3 linked regions of the Homo sapiens genome follow. The protein of the gene in region 3 purifies or fractionates together with the protein of the main gene of each other region. This does not show direct contact. Each region holds a gene or a part of one and is shown on either strand. Other genes may lie near its edges. The genes, in order: UNC119B, MACIR and AVPI1.

Region 1 (7,935 bases), on a different chromosome or scaffold from region 3:
GGAGGCAGAGGTTGCAGTGAGCCAAGATCATGCCGTTGCACTCCACCCTGGCAACAGAGCAAGACTCCTTCTTAAAAACAAACAAACAAACAAACAAACAAACAGCCCTCAGCCAGATAGTAGAGTGACTTGGTACTAAGGAAATTACTAGCTCTTAGTCCCAGACCACAAGCCATGCCTGCAATCCCAGCCATGATTTGCTAATTCAGTGCATGCCATCTGGGGAGGCAGCAGAAAGCAGGACTGAACTTTCAGTCTTGGCAGAAAAATGCCAGCTGATGATGTCTTGCTTACCTTGGTTACACCAGCTCTGGGCCCCACCTGCCTGGCCTGATTTGAAGGCAGACTGCCTGGCTACTCTGGGACTGCCCTGGAAAACAGCCACTCTCACACCTCTTACAGGGAGGAAAACAGCCAGCGGGAGAGAGTCAGCCCTGAGCTGGGGGGAAAGGAAGGCTGGCCCTCTGCTTTTGGTGTCAGGATTACTATTTAATGCAGTAGTCCTCTATTTTCCTTCTTCCCCCAAATAAAGTGTTAGTATATGTAATTTTCAAAAGACATTTTAAAAGAGCCTTTCCCCACACCTCAAAAAATTTGATGTGGAAAGGCAGATTGGCGGTTACACCCCTAATTTTTCCTACCCCTTTAAAAAATGAAATTATATATATTTCCTTCCCTTTCCCTTTCCTTCATTTCCTTCTTTCTTTTCTCGTTTCCTTCCTTTCCCCCCGTCCTTTCTTACAGTCTCACTCTCACCCCTCGAACTTCTGGCCTCAAGCAATCCTCTGGCTTTGGCCTCCCAAAGTGTTGGTATTACACGCATGAGCCACTGTGCCCAGCCAGTCTATTCCTTTTAACCAAAATTCATAGGTAGTGCCCAGAGAGAGTACAAGCTCTGACTCATATGGCAGTATTTACTTAAAAAAAAAAAAAAATGCCAGGCATGGTGGCTCACGCCTGTAATCCCAGCACTTTGGGAGGCTGAGGCAGGCGGATCGCCTGAGGTCAGTTCAAGGCCAGCCTGACCAACATGGTGAAACCCCATCTCTACTAAAAATACAAAAATTAGCTAGGTATGGTGGTGGGCACCTGTAATCCCAGCTACTTGGGAGGCTGAGGCAGGAGAATCGCTTGAACCTGGGAGGCGGAGGTTGCAGTGAGCCAAGATTGTGCCACTGTACTCCAGCCTGGGCGACAGAATGAGACTCTGTCTCAAAAAAAAGAATAATAAAAATAAAAAATAAAGTAAAATAAAAAAACAGGCCAGGCACAGTGGCTTACGCATGTAATCCCAACACTTTGGGAGGCTGAGGCAGGTGGATCACAAGTTCAGAAGATCGAGACCAGCCTGTCCAACGTGGTGAAACCCCGTCTCTACTAAAAATACAAAAATTAGCTGGGCATGGTGGCGCGTGCCTGTGTTCTCAGCTACTTGGGAGGCGGAGGCAGGAGAATCGCTTGAACCCAGGAGGCAGAGGTTGCAGTGAGCCGAGATTGTGCCACTGCACTCCAGCCTGGGTGACAGAGCGAGACCCGTCAGAAAAAAAAAAAAAAAAATTAAGTTTGAGGTTGCTTTTAAATTTTAAAAGATTTGTAAGGCAACTTTGGCATAGAGTTTGCCTTCCAGACACAGATCCAAAAGTATTTTCTTTTCTTTTTTTTTTTTTTGAGACAGAGTCTTGCTCTGTTGCCAGGCTGGAGTGCAGTGGCGCGATCTCAGCTCACTGCAACCTCCACCTCCCAGGTTCAAGCGATTCTCCTGCCTCAGCCTCCCAAGTAGCTGGGACTAAAGGAGTGTGCCACCATGCCCGGCTAATTTTTGTAGTTTTAGTAGAGACGGGGTTTCACCATATTGGTCAGGCTGGTCTCGAACTCCTGACGTTGTGATCTGCCTGCCTCGGCTTCCCAAAGTGCTGGAATTATAGCCGTGAGCCACTGCACCTGGCCGGTATTTTCTTTTTAAAAAAGTATACAAGCAGCCCATGATTATATGCTTGAGATAAAATAGTACAGAAGTAGTAGTTCTAAATAATGTCAAAAGTGAATATATTTCCTTTAGTCTCTTCTGATACTCTCCTCCCCAGACGTAATCAAAGTTAATGTTTTAATGTATATCCAGACCTCTTCCTTTACAGTTACAAATGCATATTTATATTTATGTCTATGTCTATCTGTGTTTTTTTTTTTTTTTTTTTTGAGACAGGGTCTCACGCCCATGGCCCAGGCTAAAGTGCAGTGGTGCGATCTCAGCTCACACAGCCTCGGCTTCCTGGGCTCCGGTGATTCTCCCACCTCAGCCTCCTGAGTAGCTGGGACTACTGGCATGCACCACCACGCCCAGCTAATTTTCGTATTTTTAGTAGAGACGGGGTTTTGCCATGTTTCCCAGGCTGGTCTCGAACTCCTGGGCTCAAGCAATTTGCTCACCTTGGCCTCCCAAAGTGCTGGGATTACAGGCATGAACCACCACACTCGGCCCACATCTAAATATTTATATACTTTTTATTTTAAATAAATGGGATTCGCGGCTGGATGCAGTGAGCTGTGATTGTGCCACTGCACTGCAGCCTGGGTGACAAGAGTGAGACCCTGTCTTAAATAAATAAATACACAAATATGACTCTGTGCCTTGCTTTTTGCCCTACTTAATATATGTTTGAGATCTTTCCATACTAATATATATGTCTCATTTTTTAAAACAGCTCTATGTAACGTGAATGGATACAAATGTAATTTATTGTAATTTGTCAATATTACAAATCTCTGTGCATGCAGGTAGGGTAAATTCCTAGATGTGGAATTGCAGGTGAAGAGGTTACATTTGCCATCATCCCTAGAAAGAGAAAAGCCATGGTCCAGGTAACTAGTCTTGGTGCTATGAGAACAAACCTTCCGTAAATAAGTATATGGGAAATGACCACATGCTAAACCACCCTCTTGGCCATTCACAATCAAGTAGCATATTAAAAGTTCTGGAAATTCTTCAGTAACCACTCTGTTGAGTGGTTTAAAAAGAGTTGTTTGTAAAAGGAAAGACTTTAATTCTTTGTACACATTTATTAAAATCTCCCTGAACAGTTAGTTAAATGCCACCATATACTAATCTCTCAAAGACAGTACAGCATTTGGGTAGGAATTTGGCCACACACTATGCCACCCAATTGGGCAGCTGGGGTGGGGTCAGGTTTGGACTTTGTCCAGGAACCAAGAGATGCCTGTCTTGGTGGCTTTGGTGAGAGGGACTCAGCAAGCAAGGCCTGGCAAGAACGTCAAGAGGCTCTGGGGGACGGTTGCAATTTTACTCTAGCCTGGCTGAGAGGTGATGTCAGACCTAGCAGACACACTGCATCAATCAGGCCCAGGCCTCCAACACAGAACAGTGCAGATCTAGAATCCCTAGAGAAGGAGCCCCTCAGGGTGGAAGACGGTAGACCACATCCCCCTGTTGACCCACTTCTGGCTAATTGGTGAGGTCATGGCTAACTTCCAAAGCTCAGTGCAGATATTGCCTCTGAAAACTTCCGAAGCCCTCAAGCTTTTACAGCCAGGTCAGAATAAACCACTCCTGTGTGTTCTCCTAGCACCTTTGCTGCATCTCTTAGTGCAGTCAGTGAATCTAGTTTGTCTTCCAGTTCATACTAACCTACCTTGTGAAAAGGAAGGGTCACATAATGAATTGTGTACTTTACAGTCTTCTCTAACAAAAGTGGGAGCTCTTCCATAGTGGGATACTGTTCAGGCTCTCATTCAATCATTACTGAGCACCTACCACGTGTCAGGCATTAGCTGAACTGCTGGGAATTCAGGGGTGAGGCAGACCCAATCCCTGCCCTCACTCTTACATCTCCTGTAGCCTAGCCCAATGTCTAGCCCAGGGCCTGGCACAGTAGGGCTTACGGATGGCAATCTCATTGGAAAGTTTGTCTTGAAACTGCCTTTGCAAAACAAACACTGCTTTAACTTACCTTCTATGCTAAATATATTAATAAACATTTTCTCAAGATGCATTGTCCACTAATAGCTTAGTGTTGAAGAACAGGCCTTGGGTCAGATGGACCTGGATTAAAATCCCTGTTCCCTCCTCTTACTGCTTGAGGGACTTTGGACATGTTACCTGACTTCTCTGAACTTGAGCTTCCTGATCTGTAAAATGGAGACAGTAATACCTCACAGGGTTGTTGTGAGGTGAGGAGCCTGCCCTATAGCAAGTGTCCTGCCATATAGCAAGTGCGCAGTAAACACTGGCCATTCTTCTTCTTGGTGTGATTACTGGGAATTAGTTGCCATTGTGCTGTTGGGACTGGTGACAGAACTCTTGGATTGAGAATGCCGAGATGGTGCACGGAAGATTCTGTGTGCTCTTTCAGACCAGGAGGAGGATGAGGAGGAGGAAAGTTTATATGACGTAAATTCATTTGACCGTAAGATATGTATTTAAACATCGTGGAGGATCTTGGGGGTCTGATGGGGAGTGGGGTTGCTGAAGCTCCAGCCACCCCTAGGCCCTCCACCTGGCAGGACCAAAGTTGGGGCAGTAGCCGAAGCACCGCCCCCCGGGCCCCGCAGGAGTGTGCAGTCACCCAGTTAGGCCTATCTTGGCCTGCCCATCACTCCTGGCCTGCGGTCTCCTAACCCTGTGGCAGCAGCAGCATTCCCTGAATGGATCGAAGGCTGCCATGGTGTCGTCCGCTGAATTGCTATAGGAGTCAGCCCAGGGCTGCTCATGTGCACCTCAGGTTGCTGATGGCAGCTCTAGTTATTTGGGGATGGAAGTTTGGGGAGAGTGGGCCTTGGTCCACCCTGTGCGAAAGGGAATTCCACAGCCCCCCGGGCGCCCGCCCCCGCCCCCGCCCCGCCCCCTCCCCGCCCCTTCCCCGCCGGGCCCCGGGCCCCGCCCCCGCTCTCCATAGTTACCGCGCTGTGGAGGCGGCGGCCATCTTGGCGGCGGAGCGATGAGCGGGTCTAACCCGAAGGCTGCGGCCGCGGCGTCGGCGGCTGGGCCCGGGGGGCTGGTGGCTGGCAAGGAGGAGAAGAAGAAGGCGGGCGGCGGCGTCCTGAACCGCCTGAAGGCGCGGCGGCAGGCGCCCCACCACGCGGCCGACGACGGCGTCGGGGCAGCGGTCACGGAGCAGGAGCTGCTGGCGCTGGACACCATCCGGCCCGAGCACGTCCTGCGCCTCAGCCGGGTCACCGAGAGTGAGTGCCGCGCGGGCCGCGCCCTCCCCTCGCGCCGTGCCCCGGCTCCCGGAGCCTTCAGCGGACCCGGCCACTTGACCAGCGCGGGGGTCCCCGCCAGACCCCCTCGGCCGGCCGGGCCGCGCTTCCCGCTGCCCCGCCGGCCGGGCTTTGCTCCCGCCACGCTCACGTAGCTCTGGTGGGGAAGGACTCTCCTGGGCTGGACCGCATTCCTGTGAGTCCGGCCACGCTAGGATGCCCTTCGGCCGGTCGGCTCCCCAGCTCTGCCGGACCTGTTTGGGTAGAGGGCCCCGTTCAGCTGAACTGGATCCTCCTGAGCCGGCCGGGGGCCGAGGTCCCCTAATAAATGGGCCCCTGGGCCCTCAGCCTGGAACCCCCGGCCATCAGTGAAGTTCCCGCTCAGCCAGGCTCCCCCAGCCCTCTGGCAGGCCAGAAGCCTTACCTGCTTCCTCCGCCCTGGCCCCATGGCAGCCCTCCCCCATTGCAGCCTGCCCGGCCTCCCTCCCTCTTTGGGTCGGGAGCGTTGCCCCTTAGTGTGCAGATGGGTTCTTCCTCAAAACACATAGCCGTGGCATTTCCTGCTCATTTAAAACTGTGCCACATTAAAACAAAAATAAAGTTTCAGTTTGTGTACAGACTCCGACATGTGAATCCTGCTTTTGACATTCTCGTGAATTAAGAATGATTTCAGAGTTTCAGAAATGCGTTTCCTGCACAAAAGGCAACCATCCTAAGCTTTTTCGTTGATAGGAGGATGGGTGGGAAGAAAAATGTTGCCCAGTCCCTGCCCTGGGTGATCTCCCTTTTTCTGTTCTCTGCCAAGCCAGTCCCTGACTTGACGTCTTTTCTCTTGCTGCTGTTTTCCCTGCAGGAGTGTGCACTCACCTAGTTAGGCCTATCTTGGCCTGCCCATCACTCCTGGCGTGCAGTCTCCTAACCCTGTGGCAGCAGCAACATTCCCTGGATGGATCGAAGGCTGCCATGGTGTCTGCTGAGCTGCTATAGCAGGCAGCCCAGGGCTGTTCAGGTGCACCTCAGGTTGCCGATTGCAGCTCTAGTAATTTGGGGATGGAAATTTGGGGGGAGTAGGCCTTGGTCCACCCTGTGCGAAAGGGAATTCCCATTTCCTAAAAGAGTTTTAATTTGATTCTAGATATTTGGATGCCCCCGTTTCCCAATACTGTTTGGGTTGAGACTGTCCTTACCAGACCTGAACGTATCTTTAGACATTCTTGTTAGTTTTATTGAAACAGTGTGAAAAAGCTTCTTTTCTTCTGAACCAGTTTTCATTTGGGGCTCTGAAAGTACAGATGCTCAGCACCTGGTCTTGGTAACCTCATGCCCTCTCCTGCCATCCAAGTGAGTTAGGGTATTCTGTGCCTGGCCCTAAGCAGGATTCTCAGTGGGCACTCAGATCCTATCTGGGGGCTTGGGATTGTTGCTCATTGTCCAAACCCACCTCTGCAGCTTCTTAGAGTCTGGCAACCTCTTTGTTACTCTTCTTAACGTCTCGTTCATTCTATCCAGCAGATTATTTGAGTACCCTCTAAGAGTCCAAAGCCAATGTTAGCCTTTTTAGCAGTTACAGAATAATCAGTAGTTGTCAAGTTTGTCGTCTTAATAAAGAGACAACTTGTAAAACACGAAAACAACTAACTCAGGCAATAAAAGATCAAGTATCAAAATGAGCTGTGGAGAAGATGCTATCCGGAATCATCCTAGAAAGAAATCAGTGAAATTTGCTGTGATTAGAATTATTTCAATTTGCGGCTCATGTTCTAGTCACTTGGGCCTAATGTCTTCACCGGCAGATTTATCCTCTTGCCTGGATATGTATGATATGTATTGTCTACTGTATGATTTTGTGTAGCCCACAAACTAAGATTAGGTTTGTACATTTTTAAATGGTTGAAAAAAACTTTAAAATCTTGAGACACGTGGTTATGTAAAATTCATATTTCAGTGTCCATAAATACAGTTTTACTGGAATATAGCCACATTCATTCATTTGCGTATTGTCTGTGGATGCTTTTGTGGCTACAATGATAGAGTTGAGTAGTTGTGACAGAGACCATGTGGCGGCAAAGCCTAAATTATTTAGAATCTGGCTCTACAGAAAAGTTTGCTGATCTCGGCTTTCTTACACTGACAGTTGGCAAACTAACGTTGGCAAACTAGCACTGTATTATCTGCTAAGTCAGTTTAAATGTCTTAGATTGGAATTCTATAAAAAGTTCGCCCTGTTCTGACATCCAACTTGATAGATGATGAAAGATTTTTATGTGTTTCCAAAGAAATCCACCTTTTCTATCCTAGTTTCTAAAAGTTTTGCAATTTTTCATCCAAAGCAAGTCCTTGTTATTTTTTTTCTTTGTTGGATCCCCTAATTCTGTCCATACAACTTCTGCTGGTGATAACACATGAGAAAGTTTTTGGGAGTATTTTAAGTGTGTTGTGTAAGAAAAAATCTGAGTTTGCTTCAAAACTTGAGAATTAAATAAATGGTAGTTTTGGAGGATTATTTAACAGTGTTGGTTTCTCTCTCTTGTTTTCAGATTATTTATGTAAACCCGAAGACAACATCTACAGTATTGATTTCACCCGCTTCAAAATTCGAGATTTGGAGACAGGGACAGTACTTTTTGAGATTGCCAAACCTTGCGTTTCAGGTAGGCCTCTACGTTGTGGTGACCACTAGACAGTTTTGAGCCAAAGGTCTTTGAAACTCAAATCTTTGTG
Region 2 (7,970 bases), on a different chromosome or scaffold from region 3:
AATATGAGGACCAGCACATAGCCCTTTCAAATATTGGTAAATAAAAATCACATTCATCATTAAAGTTTATATTATGAAAGGACAAATTTTAGGCAGAGAAATTGGTACAGTAGAAGCTGTGAGTTCTAATTCTAGCTATCAAAACATTTATTTTCATTTTTTTCATGGCCCTAACCTGAAGCCCACCAAAACATTTTCAAGAAAGAAAAGAAAGAAAGAAAGAAAGAAAGGAAGAAAGAAAGAAAGAAAGAAAGAAAGAAAGAAAGAAAGAAAGAAAGAAAGAAAGAAAGAAAGAAAAAGAAAAACAGGTAGTATTTTCAGAGTGGCTATTTAAGAAGAGACCACTAATGGAAAAGCACTTGGAAAAAAAACATCAATTTTTAAAAATTCTTTCAAAATAGTGAAAATATTTTGTAACCACTAATCTCAAAGACCACTAAAAACAAGTAAAAGATGAACCAAAACATCTCTGGAGGAATACTAACTGAACACTAAGCAGAAATAAAATGGCTTAACTGTCAAAGTACAACACAACAATGAAAACAAAATGTTTAGCTGCACCTAGATGCTCATCTTAGAGGCTTCTTTCAAATATTCTTACTTTACCATTTGCAACTTGCAAAAAGTAAGTCATCAATACTCTTTAAGAAGAGTTAACTAGGGTGTGACTTTTCTGAAACCATCCTTGACCTTACAAACAAACCATTAACCTTGCCAACTTTGTAAGATAACCCATAATTCGTTCAGTAAGACAAAAATGTGTTTCTCTTTCTAGTATCAGTTCTTTTAATAGCAATCCACCCCCTTAAAGTGCAGCACTCATTATCTTTCCATTTCTGCTAGTAAAAATTAAACCTAGGTTACTAATATCTTCTTATCACGTGGTGTCATCCTTCTACTTTTAGAAAAATACTCAGTTTCACTGCAAATATGACCGACAGTAAGTGGAACTAAAGGTCAACATGCAGCCTTTACAAGAAATTTGTCTCTTAGGAAGTATCATCAAAATGGAACAGGTGTACACTGTGGAATTGGCTAATCTTTGGGAAGGCTTAAAACCAGGTACTCATTTTGATAGGCTGGTGACAAAATCAAAGTTCTCTCTGGAGGAAAGGAGCTGATCCCCCACCTCACCCCCAGCTACAAATCAGCAAAGAAATTTTAAACCCTGTACATAAAGCTTTATTACTCTAACCATATTAAGTACTTTTGAGTTAATTTTATAATAGCTCTCTAAAATACACAGAAATATACAAAGAAAATAAGCAAATTCATTGACTGTTATATAATATCAATAAATATATCTTATACACTGAAATAATTACTAACACTTTCATTTGCAATTAAATAAACTGTTAGCAAAAGCATATTCTATACATCAATTATTATCAAATTAACAGGTCTCTGTATTCATTAACTCTTATATTCCATCCTGTTCATTTTACTTTTCAGTTTATAATGCATTCACAGTTACATAATTAAAACACTGAGGATTCTGTGACACATTCATTAAACTTAATAGTGTAATCATAAATCGCGGCCAAAAGCTTCTGCCGTAATAACCAATACTATATTTTGAAATGACTGGGAAAATAAACTTTGCAAAAGGGTCATTTCTACCTCTATAGTGTCAATCCAGCATTACAGGATTTGAGAAAATAAAACAACTAACAACCCTAAATTGTAGGTTGGCTCTTCGGAAAAAAAAAAAAAAGGAAAATGAGTCTAGTAACATCAGAAATATGCAAGAATTGTTCTTTCAGCTAGGAGCGGCAAGCACACTGTAAAATGCCTCCATTCTTCCTGCTCAAATAAAAAGTTCCCAGCTCCAGCTTTACCTGTGCACCACACACACACAAACACACACACACACACACACACACACGGAAATCTTGGTTCCACCCAAATCAGTAACCCACTGGGTTGAAAACTGAGGTGGAAGGAGAGGCAGGGAGTCCCTAAGCGTGTGGAACACTAGCAAGGGGAAAAGGACGGGGCCATCATTCCCTTCGCGTTCCCATCTCCTTTCTGGCGGAGACCTGCAGATTCCACCACTAGAGAGAGTTTGGCAGCTTCACAATGGGGCCGCGTTGCTGGAGGTCTGACTGCCACCCGCCTCGAAACCCCTCTCCTCCGCTTCCCACCTGCCCCAAAGTCCACCCGCGACAGGTGGGGCGAGGGTGGCAATGCCCGACATCTGCCGCTTAAGCTTCTGGCTCGGACCGGGCCCCAATCCACACGCGCACACACGGCCACAGCCGGCCAGTCCACCCCCACTGCACCGGCAGACACTCGGAGGGCGCGGGCGGCCTCGCACGCGGGTTGCAACCAGGACGAGGAGGGTCGGCGAGATCAGACCGCCGGGGCTCGCCCTGAGGTGCTATCTGACCCGGGCAGTCGCACCCTGAGCGCGGCCGGGCACGCAGCCAAAGGTGCCGCCGGCCGGGGAAAGCTACTTCTCAAAGGGGCCTCCAGGCCCGCTGCCCCGCGGTGCGGGAACAGCGGCCAAGGGAGGGAGCGAGCGAGCGTGCGCGCCAACGCGCCCCGACTTCCGCACCGCGGCACCGCGGGAGAGGCGCTCCGGGTCGCCGAGTCCCCGCACCTCCCCAGCGAGCGCACGACGCGCGCACACGGGGGCGCACGCCCCCGCACACTCACACGCGCTGCACACTCACGGCGTCTGCGGCCCCACCCCTGTGCCAGGGAACCGCAAGCTCCCCGCACCCCGCGCGGGCCCCACCCAGTTTACCAGACCCCAGTCCCCTTCGGGTGCCTGGGAACCGGTCCACCAAGGCCAAGGGACGCTGGGGCCGCCCCGCCGCCCATCGCAGAAGCTGGTCCGGCCGGGTTTCCCCAGCACCGCGGGCATCGTGCGCCCGGCCCAGACACGAGGCGGAGAGGAAGGGGCGGCGCCGCGATTAGGGCTGGCACTGGGGATCGGAGCCTGGGGCAAACCCACTCCCCCAAGCCCCCCATAACCACCACCTTTTCTGCAGCACAAAAGGTTACAGACGGAGCCGTCGTCCCCGTGCAACCTACCGATGGCCCAGGGCTCCGCTGCCTCCGCCGTGCCCGGGGCTGCGGAGCGGGAGACAGGGGCGGGAGAGGCGCAGGACTGCGGCGCCGAGATCCAGGCAGAGGCCGCCAGCCGAGCCAGCCGGGTACCCTCTCCTCTCCCACCGCGCTCGGCGCCAGCTACCGCCCTGCTTAGTCCCCGCCCCCTCCTCCGCCTCCTCCTCCGCCTCCTCCTCCGCCCGCCTTCCCGCCTCCTCCCTCTGGCTGCAGAGGCGCAGCCCGTCAGCGCTGAGCCCGCCTCCTGCGCCCAGCTCTCAGACACCCGGAGGAAGGGCGGGCCGGCTGGCTGCAGAAAGGCGCTAAGAGGCCAGAAGAAGTTGGCGGGGGTGGGCGGGGTTGTTGACTGGTGGTGGGGAGGAGGAGTCGCAACACCCGCTCTCTAGTCTAAACCCAGCACTCCAACTAAAGAGCTCCAACTTGCGGACCTGGGAACACTCCGGCTTCCTCAGTTAAGTGGTGTGCTGATATTTGTCACTTGTGAGTCTCTGCTTAAAGGGCTCAGCACTAAGCAAAAGTACAGAAAACTAGAAGGCCATGAAATTAAAAATTATAGGATCAGTCTACGAAAACTCGTAATACCCAGTGAAGGTGGCGGGGTGGGGCGGGGGGGGGAGTTCAAATTCAGATTCTGATTGGATTAACTATTTTTTAATTTGCACAAATGTTGATCTTGTCTATTATTGTAATAAATTATTTTCTTTGATGAAGATTTGCTTCTCTCAATTCATGTACATTTCTGCCGAACTGGTTAAGCTCAGCAATAAGAATATTTACTGGCATGCATATCCAAATTTACATCTCTCAATAACCATTCTGTGAGGAAGTAACCAATTATGATCCACATTTTAAAAATGCAGAAAGTTTAGGTCATATGCCTACTGAGTGGCTAAGGCTGAATGTGTACGCAGTCGGTGAACCCCAAAATTGTTTATAAGTGTTATAAATTTCGGTACCAGTGTCCAATCAAGAGAGTTTTATTTTTTAAAAGACAAAATGCTTTATCTTAACATAAAAGACATAAATCTGGAGTAGATTAATATAAGTTTAAACGAGTCTTGATTCACACTTGTTCCAGAATCTACATATGTTCCTGATAATATAAAGGCAAAAAATATATAAACACCTCTAGTCCAACAGAACCACTCCCGGAGGCCGCTCAGCTATAAGCCATTTTATGCTACTGCTTATGTGCCCTAAAATAAGTAAAGGAAGGTAGAGGGAAGAATAAGTTTTAAGGAATGTTCCCTAAACAATTTTACAAAACATCAGTTACTTTTTTTCCCGACATAGATTTGCATGTAATTTCAAAAATATAGAAGCTAGCACAACATAATATGAATAAATAAATGAAGAAACTTTTTTTGCATCAGTACATTAGGAGAATACACCGAGAATTATTTCCGATTATAATCTGTTTGACACAATAGTGTATTGTCCTGATGATCATTCTCATAAAACCACCTCCAAAACATTGTATATTTTATATTAAGAGACTTAATTTCATTTCTTCCTGTCTGAAATCTTATAACTTTTTCAGAAGAATGTCTTGTACTTGCCCTTTGCGCTGAGAGTTTGGCAGTGTGCTTTGGCCAAAAGCAATAAAGTTCCCCTCTTAGTTTATTAGGCTCAAGGCTAGCTCTCTTGAGGGCATTGTCTCCAAATTGCCTCCCTCCCTGGGTGGTGTTCTATGCTCCCATCCTAACCCTGAATCTTCACCCAATCAGAACCTAAGTCAGTTCTTGAGTGTCACAAAGAACACCTAATAAACCAATTCACCATGCAGTAATGGTTGATAATAGCTTTATGTGTGGCTCCATCAAGGATATGTTTATGCCACCTAGAGATACTGACTGGGTATTGTCTTCACTCGGATTGGATGTGGGTTGCAAGTGCCGTGGCTGAGGGGCATATAAGAGGTGCAAGTTAATGCAGAATCCCTTCCCAGAGCTTTTTAGTGTTTTAGGAAGATCTCTTCAACCTATAAAGAAAAATGGCATTCATATAAAGGGTTAGGCCCAAATGTAGAATAGACCCAGAGCCCTGAAAGGCCTTCTGAATTTGGGGACTCAGAAGCTCCATCTCACACACTCCTTGTGTAAGTTATGTCTTTGCCTCAAGGCATCCTTTCCAGAAAATCCCTTTAAAATGACTTTAAAATGTCAGCTGCCTGGGAAATATTATACTACGTTGATGTAAATGATGTCGGCTAGCAAACAACCAGCTTGAGAGAACAGAATAGGTGAATTTGATAACAACATAATGATGTAAAACAGAATCTACAAAGACAGGTGTGCAAGAAATACCACATTACCTTCTTTTCTATAAACTCATTTGTTTCAAGCAGGGTCTAACCAGGAAAACAGAAACCATTTTGAGTATCTACAGAAGTAATTGAATGCAAGAAATTGGTAACGTAGGTGATAGGAAAAGTCAGAAGCTAATCAGGAGATGGCACAGTAATCCAGAAACTAGCAACTGCGACCTCTAGCTGGAGAAATAAGAGAAGAGGCAGGGTTATTGGAGTCCAGGGCCCAGGCAGCATGGCCAGCCTGGTGAGAGCTGCGGCCATAGAGGAGAAACAACCACTGCCAAAGAAGCAATCTAGGGAGGGAGAAGGGGGAAATGTACTATACGTTCTCCTCTCCTGCCCTCCAATCTCCTTCCAGTGCCTTGCATTGGCCAAGTCTGATACACCTGCCATGGGAGCCAGGGAAACAGCCTACGGGGATCAGCCCTTTGAGACACTGAGGAGACTAGGAGAAGAACATAGAACGTGAATCTGCACTTGATTTTATTTCTCTTTAAAGGCCTTACTCTTTTGTAAAGTTCTTCCCTCATTCCCTCGAGCAGGGTCAAAGTTCCAAGAGCATATGCCAGACCAGACCATGAATGGGTGATGATGGCAGGGAGTGGAGGGGAGGTCCTTCGGATTGCAGTCATCTGTCCACAGAGGTTTCCTTTGTTCCTTCCTGGAGCTGCCACCTATGGTTCCATGATACAGTGCACAACCTGCCTATAGACGAGACGGCCCTGCCCTATACACTGGTTCCCTCCCTTTGGCTCCGGCACCACACCTGAGGCCAGAGGAATTTCCTAGATCTGGGACCATCCTGCTAAGCCTCACACATCCTCGGTCATTTATGTTTAGGGTATTATGGTGGTCCAAGTTCAGGGCTCAAATCCCACTGCCTTGGGACATACTGACTTCTATCCTCTTCTTTCCAGATACAAGGGAATCACTTCTTAAGGAAAATCCTTCCTCTTCATTTTTTTTTTCCCAGACACTCTGCCATTGCCAGCAAACTCTATTCTGTCTCTGGGGGCTCAGGTTGTTTTCAGTAAGAGCCAGAATGAAAAAATGATCTGCAGGCAACTCCTCTCTACCCTGCCACATCTCTCCCGAAGGCAACAAGGGGGTAAATACAAGTTGGAAAAAAAATCATAAATTAGTATCTCAAAATATTATCCAGCCATAGAAGTAAGAGACGGTTAGTATTGTGGACCAAGCTGAGGAGGAGAAAGGTGGAAGGAGCTTACTTTGGAATATGTTGAATTTGGTGACTCTGTGGCACATCCTCATGGAGGTGTCAAGCAGAAGGCCAGATATGTGGAGTGGGCGCTCAGGAGGGAAATTCAGGCTGCCCTTCAGCTCTTGCTAGACCACTTCTAACTCCACACTCACATTCTGCTTATTCATTATTTAAGCCTGTACATAATTGTTTCCTGTGGAGCATTCTTCTCCACCCCTCCCTCTCAGTCTAATTCTTTGCCATTCCTCAGATTTCATGTAGATGTCACCACCTCTAAGAAGAGTTTTCTGATTCCTACTGATATTTCTCATTTCCCTGGCCTAATACCACACAGTGCTGAAATATACTATCTCCCCCTCTAAACTATACATTCCCTGAGGTCTCAGACTATGTCTAACCCCCAAAGAAAGCCCAGAGACTGACATATAACAGGTGCTCAGTAAATATTTAGCCTATTTTTACTGCGAGGAGTGGGAGAAGAACCTGTAGTAAGGTCTGCTGAAGCCAGCTTGTATCTTGTATCTGGCTCAGAAGTACTGATTGCTAAATTTTCAGGAACTTTGCAAACTGGTTGTTAAATCATCAGTAGCTTGAAATCAGCTATGGTAGGAGTATTTACACCATAGAAATTGGCAAATTCTATAAACAGGGCTTCCCATTTCTCTCTAATCTCCCCACCCCCCAGAAAGCCAGTTTACCAGCATACCATTTGATAATCTTCAAAGGGCCCCTCCTGTGTGCGGAGGAGGACAGCAGTTCAGAGAATTAAAATCTGTGCTTTTAGAAATATTCTTTCATAGAAAGAAAATGTAATTAAATTCCATAATTTGCATAGAAAAGCCTATTTAACTCAATTATATCAATAAAAAAAGAAGATAGAAAATAGAGGAAACAAAAATATAACAGCATTATAAACAACAGAGAAATCACTTCTCAGTTCCAGCTTGCTGTGGGACCTCCGGTTGGTCACTAAATTATAAGCTTCTTAAGAAACTTGAGTTGTGTTTATACGTGTATCCTTTACAATATCTAGACTGGCACAGAACAGGTACTCATAAACTACCACTTGAATCTGGGCAAATTAAACTTTACTTCTGTTGGCCTCAGCCCCTTCATTCATAAATTAAGAGGTGAGAGAAATGGTTTTCAAGAGGGCCCAAGTAGCACCCCCTTTCCTGCCCCATTCCAAACAAATTGAGAAATAAAAGGCATAAAGGTGGCGCCAATTGTTTCTGTAACATTGGAGGACATAGTTTAATGTACAATTACAGTGGTTCTATTTTTTAAATCCCATAATTAGACTGATATACCTACCCAATAAGAGGCAAAACCGGGCCAGGCAGGCCTCCTCACATCAAAGCCTGC
Region 3 (7,530 bases):
TCCAAGCCATTTCCTCCCCGAGGCAGCTGCTGCTACATGATCCTTATTGCCCTTCTTTTCCTGGGGAGGTGAGGCCAGATATCACCCTTTCTCCTACTACCCCAGACCTGCCTAGGCGTCTGCCCCGGGCTTGGTCATTGCCAGCTGAGGTCACTAGGGAGCTTTAGAGCTGTGAGTTCTGTTTTCTACCAGATGCTAACCCCAGGGCCCACTGCAGCAAAACAACATAGAGTAGGGAGGAGAAAGGGAGCTACTGGCTGGGGAATTTCCTAGCACCCAGTTAGCCAGACCTGTCCACACATTGCCCCTAGGCTTTGGCAGACAAGTAGCTCCGTTCCTCCTTCTGTACAGACTTACCTGCGGGTGGAATTGTTGACTCTCAGCACTGGTGCAGGCCCTCAGAAACAAACAGCATCAAGCTGTTCTTATAGCAGTAACAGGGAAGCTGACCCACAGAGGGGATGTGAATTGCCTGAGGTTTTTCAGCCAGTGAGTGGCAGAAGTAGGGCTTGAACCGACTCCTCTGACTCGTAAGCCAGGGCTCTGTGCACTGGGCTGGGTTGCAGTTCTTGATTTCTTCTGTGGAAGCTGGGCTCTTCCTCTTTAGAGTGCTACGGCTCAAGGCTGGGCTGTCACCCAGGAAAGAGCCCTGACCCTAGAGAACAGACTAACGAAATTCCACAGCTCCACCCCTGCCTCCACCAGGTGGGATAATTCATTGTCCTTCCCTTTCCATTGGTAGGATTTCCCCTTCATGAATTAGGTGGGAATAGGAAAGCATTCTTCATAGAAATGTGAAGTGTTCTTTAAGCTGCCTGGCTGTGAAGCCAGCTCGGGGGTTTAAAAGCGTGGGCTGACCGGGCGCAGTGGCTCACACCTGTAATCACAACACTTTGGGAGGCCAAGGCGGGTGGATCACCTGAGGTCAGGAGTTCAAGACCAGCCTGACCAACATGGTGAAACCCTGTCTTTACTAAAAATACAAAAAATTAGTCGGGAGTGGTGGGGGACGCCTGTAATCCCAGCTATTCGGGAGGCTGAGGCAGGAGAATCACTTGAACTCAGGAGGTAGAGGTTGCAGTGAGCTGAGATTGCAACACTGCACTCCAACCTGGACAACAAGAGCAAAACTCACTCTCAAAAAAAAAATAAAAATAAAAGCATGGGCTGCAGTCATTTGAACCACCTCTGGCCTCGGCTAAGCCACTGGTACTCATATTTGCATCTTAGCTTCCCTTTACTTCCCTGTGAAATGGGATAACAGTCCCTAACTCCTAGAATTGTTTTGAGGATTAAAGGATATCATACGTATTGCCTGATCCAGAGTAAATATCCCATAGTTAGCTTTTCTTTTTATCAGCCTAAAAGTGTTACTTGGCGACTGTTGTCTTCTTGTCACAGTGTGTTTATGTCATCCAGCTCTGGGGGCTTAATTACCATATAGATTAGGTTTTAACTGGATTTTCATAATAGCACCTAAGGAGAGGCAGATTTTTAAATTTCCATTTTCCAAATAAAATACAATTTTCATGACGTTAACTCATCTGGAAGTCTTCTGCAGCTTTATTGTAGTTGTTAAATCTTTTGAAAACAGGGTGGAGTTTTTATGATAGAAGGCCTGGAAACTGGGACAGAGTGAGCATAGAAATGATTGGGATAATGAGGGTGACTATTGAGGTGAGGAGCGGAGAAGGCCAGGGCAAGGGGGGGAGTCATATTTTGGGAGTATGAGTGGGGCGGAGACAATTCAAACTCTTACAGAGAACAAAAGGCAGGTTAGGGGAAGGGTTACTTCTGCAAGTGGGTTGATAGGAAATTGGAAAAGTTTTTATATATAAGCTTTTGTACTGTTTGCCTCTTATGATGAGCATGTAAATATTTTAATTTAAAAATATTTTAATGTTCCTTTTCCCCTTTTGGAAGCTGGTTGCTGTTGACAGCTGTCTCTGTAGCTGGCTGTGGAATGAGGTCTGACTTAGGCAACCAGGCCCTGGAGAAGCAGCAGGACCTGCTCCTCCTCTCCCCAGCAGGCCTGGGGCTGGGAGAGATGGGTGGGAGCACAGGCCTGTCATCAGCTGGCTGTGCCACACAGCTTAGAGGAAAGAGGAGGGTTTACCTGTACCCCTGACCCAGGTACAAAGGTCACAGAGGCCAACAGAGGAGGATTTGCGTTTATAAATTCCTCAGTATCCATGGAGGGTGGTTCCAGGCTCCTCCGTGGGACGCTTAAGTCACTTACATAAAATGCCATGTTGGCCTATAGACTGCGCACATCCTCCTGCATGCTTTAAATCATCTCTAGGGTACTTATAATACCTAATACAATGTGAATGTTTTGTAGTTACAATGTATCTATTTTTTATTTGTATTTTTTAATTGTTGTATCATTGTATTCTTTTTTTCTTTTTTTTTTTTTTTTCTTTTTTTTTGAGACGGAGTCTCGCTCTGTCGCCCAGGCCGGACTGCGGACTGCAGTGGCGCAATCTCGGCTCACTGCAAGCTCCGCTTCCCGGGTTCACGCCATTCTCCTGCCTCAGCCTCCCGAGTAGCTGGGACTACAGGCGCCCGCCACCGCGCCCGGCTAATTTTTTGTATTTTTTAGTAGAGACGGGGTTTCACCTTGTTAGCCAGGATGGTCTCTATCTCCTGACCTCATGATCCACCCACCTCGGCCTCCCAAAGTGCTGGATTACAGGCGTGAGCCACCGCGCCCGGCCGTATTCTTTTTTTTAAGACGGAGTTTTGCTCTTGTTGCCCAGGCTGGAGTGCAATGGCGGGATCTCGGCTCACCGCAACCTCTGCCTCCTGGGTTCAAGTGATTCTCCTGCCTCAGCCTCCCGAGTAGCTGGGATTACAGGCATGCGCCACCACGCCCGGCTACTTTTGTATTTTTAGTAGAGACGGAGTTTCTCAATGTTGGTCAGGCTGGTCTTGAACTCCTGACCTCAGGTGATCCGCCCGCCTCACCTCCCAAAGTGCTGGGATTACAGGTGTGAGCCACCACGCCCAGCCATATCATTGTATTCTTAAATTTTTTATTTATCCTCTTATTGGGTAACTGATATAATTTTATTTAGCTCTTATTGGGTAACTGATATACTGGGCTCATTTATCCTTACTATAACCCTAAGAAGTGGGTAATCTTATCCCCATTTGACAGTTAAGGAAACAGGCTCAGAGACGAGGTTGGGTAACTTGCTTAAGGTGTCAGAGTTGGAACTCAAAACCTGTTCTATGTAATGCCAGGCTTCCCTTGTTTCCAGGCTGTGCTGGAGACAAGGATGGGTGGGTAAGCTTCTTAGGCCTTTATTATTCAAAGTGAACTATCTAGAATCAAGGGAGATCCTTTAATTTTCACTTCCTGGATATGATGGGAGACATTGACACAGAGTCTAACTTCTATTGAACTTTCTTATAAGTTTCAGTCTCTGCCCTTGACAGTATATTCTAACCCTTGTAGCCTCCTCTTCTGCCTCCACCTCTTGCTCATTAGGTCCACTGGACTGTGGTTAGATCTGATTGGCTCATTTCATACTATGTTTGCTAAATTATACAGATTTGGTTCATCCCCAGGGTCTTAAAGATAGGAGGTGGGATGATGTCTCAATTTTATAGATTGAAAACACTGACCACTATTCTATATACTTTGTCTTCCTTCAATCTTCAAATTAATCCTACAAAGTAGGTAGTAGTACTAGGTGATAATTTGACACGGGAGGCAGCTGAGGCAGGGGGGATGCCCAGCCAGTAAGTGGTGGAGGGGGTAGAAGTGGGATTCCAACTCGGGTAGCCCAGCTCCACAACTCCTCTCTTACCTTTGTGCTACGGCACCTGGGCCTTAGCATCAGAGAGGCCTGGGTTCTCATCCTAGTTGCAGAACCATGGATGACTTAACCTTTCCTCAGATTCCTCATCTGTGAAATGAGGAGGATTAAAATACCTACCTTACAGGGCTGTTGTGCTTGTTACATCTCATTGATACTATGTGAAGCAAGCTGTTACAGGTGCCTGGTATAAGTACTCAACACAGTTGAGCTGCTACTGGGCATCCTGGCGTCTGCATGGAATCTACAGCTAGACAGACCTGGGTTCAACTGCTGGCTCTGCATGTGCACGTGGCTTTGTGACGCTGGCAAGTCATTTAACCCCTCTGAGTTGCACTTCTTCATCGGTAAAATGAGGATAAACAATAATTCTTACCTCATGGGTTGCTTTGAATCCTAAATGAGATAATATGGGGGTCTGACACATAAGTGCTTAAGTGATTTTAAGGCAGGAGACTTCCTCCAGTTTAGCTCTTGGAGAATGGAAACATCAGAAGCCCTAGGATTAGCCAGGACCCCCAGGTCTGGGAAGGACCAGCTGAGTTGATGATGTCTCCATGCTTTGCATCCTCAGAGCATCCACAATGGGTACCCCAGCCTCGGTGGTCAGTGAGCCACCCCCTTGGCAGGCCCCGATTGAGGCCCGGGGCCGCAAGCAGGCCTCGGCCAACATCTTCCAGGACGCCGAGCTGCTGCAGATCCAAGCCCTGTTTCAACGCAGCGGGGACCAGCTGGCCGAGGAACGGGCACAGATCATCTGGGAATGTGCAGGGGACCACCGTGTGGCTGAGGCCCTCAAGAGGCTGCGCAGGAAGAGGCCCCCAAGGCAGAAACCCCTGGGCCACTCGCTACACCACTGCAGCCGCCTCAGGTAGGTTCCTAGAACCGGATGGCTGAGGGAAGAGCACTAATGCCTGTTCCACCACTGCATGGCTGTGTGGCCTGGAGCTAGTTACTTGGCCTCACTGTAAAGTGCCTGCCCACCATTGGGGTGGTTATAAGGTCTACACAGTGTCACCACTTGGTTGGCACTTAAGAGATTGCTGTTGGTGGGTGCAGTGGCTCATCCCTGTAATCCCAGCACTTTGGGAGGCCGAGGCAGGCAGATCACTAGGTCAGGAGTTTGAGACCAGCCTGACCAACATGGTGAAACCCTGTCTCTACTAAAATTACAAAAATTAGCTGGGTGTGGTGGCACACACCTGTAATCCCAGCTACTCAGCAGGGTGAGGCAGGAGAGTCACTTGAATCTGGGAGGTGGAGGTTGCAGTGAGCTGAGATGACGCCACCGCACTCCAGCCAGCCTGGGTGACAGAGCGAGACTCTGTCTCAAAAAAAAAAAAAAAAAGATTGCTGTTACTTTTGGAGTCATATACAACCCTGTGAACTCCCATGGAAAGAGATGCCTGAGTCCTAGTAGCATCACCTCATTCTGCCGTTATTCTCAGCTTACCAGCCTGGGCAACATGGCGAGATCCTGTCTCTGAAAACACACACACACACACACACACACACACACACACACACACACACACACACACACACACACACACACACACACACACACACACACACACACACACACACACACACACACACACACACACACCCTCCCCCCGCCAAAAAAAAGAGAAATTAGCCAGGCATGGTGGCATGCACCTGCGGTCCCAGCTACTCCAGGGGCTGAGGTAGGAGGATCACTTGAGGCCAGGAGTTTGAGGCTGCAGTAAGCTATGATCCTGTCACTGCACTCCAGCCTGAGTGACCTGAGTGACAGAGTGAGATTCTCTTTTTTTTTTTTTTTTAAGCCTAATTAAAATCTTGGCTGGGGGATTACAGAGAATATAGCCTAGGAATGTACTGTCGAGGCATTATGGGTTAAAAATTGTTGAAAACTTTTACCTTGAGATCTCTCCCCAGTCTCCCTGGTGGGCCACTTCTTTGCCTAGGCCACTGCCAGCCCAGGAAGAGTGAACCCAAAGGGATGGAGCTGAACCACTTGGCCTCAACCAATCACTATGGGTGATGCTCTGGGCTTCATCTCTCTGCTGCCTTCTCTGGGGCCCACAATCAGAACATCAGACCTAAACAGGCCTTTGGAGGTCATCAGGTCCTGAGATGGCAAGTCAGTGTCATAGCTTGTATTTAACTCCAGTTAATTAGTAGTCACTGCTTATCAAACCAGTTTAATAGCATGACTTATGACATCTGCCATGAGTACAGGATGAGGATGAAGAAATGTTGAGTTTTGCACAACCTGATCTGGTCCAACCCTTTCTACTGCAGAGAAATCTGTAAACTTTGTCTAGTCAGACAGTTCTCAGAGGGGGAAAGACCAGAGCAGAGCCCCGCTCTCATTTTGCTCCAAATCATATGTTTTATGGTCCACCATGACGAAATCTCTTGAAGTCCCCATTCCATTCTTCCTATTGATGTTGGCTAATCATACACTTGTTCTCTGCAGAATCCTGGAGCCCCACTCTGCACTGGCCAACCCACAGAGTGCCACAGAGACAGCCTCCAGTGAGCAGTATCTGCACTCTAGGAAGAAAAGTGCCAGGATCCGCCGGAACTGGAGGAAGTCAGGCCCCACAAGCTACCTCCACCAGATCAGACACTGATCCAGGGAAAGAGCCAGGAATGGCAGTGTCTTCCCTCTTGCCAAAAGGCCTGGGGAGGTGAAGGAAGAGAGACTTTAGGCAAGCAGCCCAAAGGGGTAAATGAAAGCAAGAGGCTGCTGCCACTGACCTGCTCCATTCAGAACAAGACTGGATGCTTCTGTTGAGCTCTCCATTATGTGGGACCCATTCCTCACCAAAATGAGGAGAGACAGTGACTGTTCCTGCCACAGTCCTTCCCAGTCTAACACTATTCCTGGGCTGCATGATATTCCCCTGGGAGCAAAGTGACAGGCACTTAGATGCAGCATTTCACCACTCATGCTACTAATCATCTACCTGCTACTACTGTAAACCATGGTTCCAGCAGCCTGTTCCACACCCCCACACCATCAGGATAGCACAGGGAAACTGTAGTTTAAGTGGCAAATAAAAACATTTGCATCAAGAGCTGTGTGAGTCTGTCACAGAAGGGGAGGAAATGAAACAGAGTGGGAGGGGCAAGAGTGTCCCCAGGAAGGAAAAATCAGGGCTGGCCTCCTCTCTCCTTTTCACCTCCCTCTCCTTTTTCACCCCCATGCTGAGCCCCTGGACCACAGCCTCCTTTTCCAGAGTCTGTTGGATCGGGAGTAAAGAGGGGAGTCTCTGCAGCAGTCCTGATCCATAGGATCAGGAGAAGGGGGAAGACTGTCATGGTCAGCCCAGCACAGTAGGCTGAGGCCTTGGGCTGGCTTAATCTGTAGTCAAACTAGTGGTGCCAGATCCTCATTTGGTTTCTTCATCCTTATGGGCTGACCATCCCAAGGTGGACTGATGATTCTGAAGTTGCCTGCGTTATATCCTAGGCTTCCCATGGCCTGGAAACCCTTGAAGGCAGGGTTTTTCCCACAGTTCTGGCTCCACCTCAAGAGAGGCATACTCTGTGCTTATTAGCTTTCTTCTCCCTCTCCACCCACCCTATATGCTTGATTATTCAGGGTTTGAAGTGGGGCAGTGATGTACACAGGGCAGGGCTGCCCTCTGGTGGCCAAGAGGAGGAACCACTACTACCTTGAGTCAGGTAGGTCCTCTTTTTTATTTTATTGTTT

Evidence for each region.
Region 1: the proteins of AVPI1 (region 3) and UNC119B purify together in Homo sapiens (co-immunoprecipitation; 2 studies listed by BioGRID and IntAct, with this or other methods). This does not show direct contact.
Region 2: the proteins of AVPI1 (region 3) and MACIR purify together in Homo sapiens (co-immunoprecipitation; 2 studies listed by BioGRID and IntAct, with this or other methods). This does not show direct contact.

The regions. Positions count from the first base shown.
Region 1 is NC_000012.12:120,705,523-120,713,457, forward strand, and holds the start of UNC119B (protein unc-119 homolog B), read left to right. Parts: upstream 1-4,935; 5' UTR 4,936-4,952; coding exon 4,953-5,196; intron 5,197-7,751; coding exon 7,752-7,865; intron 7,866-7,935. UniProt on the Homo sapiens protein: Myristoyl-binding protein that acts as a cargo adapter: specifically binds the myristoyl moiety of a subset of N-terminally myristoylated proteins and is required for their localization.
Region 2 is NC_000005.10:103,253,966-103,261,935, reverse strand, and holds the start of MACIR (macrophage immunometabolism regulator), read right to left. Parts: upstream 3,174-7,970; 5' UTR 3,040-3,173; intron 2,907-3,039; exon of another isoform or gene 2,741-2,906; intron 2,712-2,740; exon of another isoform or gene 2,659-2,711; intron 2,513-2,658; exon of another isoform or gene 2,145-2,512; intron 2,031-2,144; exon of another isoform or gene 1,920-2,030; intron 1-1,919. UniProt on the Homo sapiens protein: Regulates the macrophage function, by enhancing the resolution of inflammation and wound repair functions mediated by M2 macrophages. The regulation of macrophage function is, due at least in part, to its ability to inhibit glycolysis.
Region 3 is NC_000010.11:97,676,784-97,684,313, reverse strand, and holds the end of AVPI1 (arginine vasopressin-induced protein 1), read left to right. Parts: intron 1-4,398; 5' UTR 4,399-4,408; coding exon 4,409-4,695; intron 4,696-6,288; coding exon 6,289-6,445; 3' UTR 6,446-6,890; downstream 6,891-7,530. UniProt on the Homo sapiens protein: May be involved in MAP kinase activation, epithelial sodium channel (ENaC) down-regulation and cell cycling.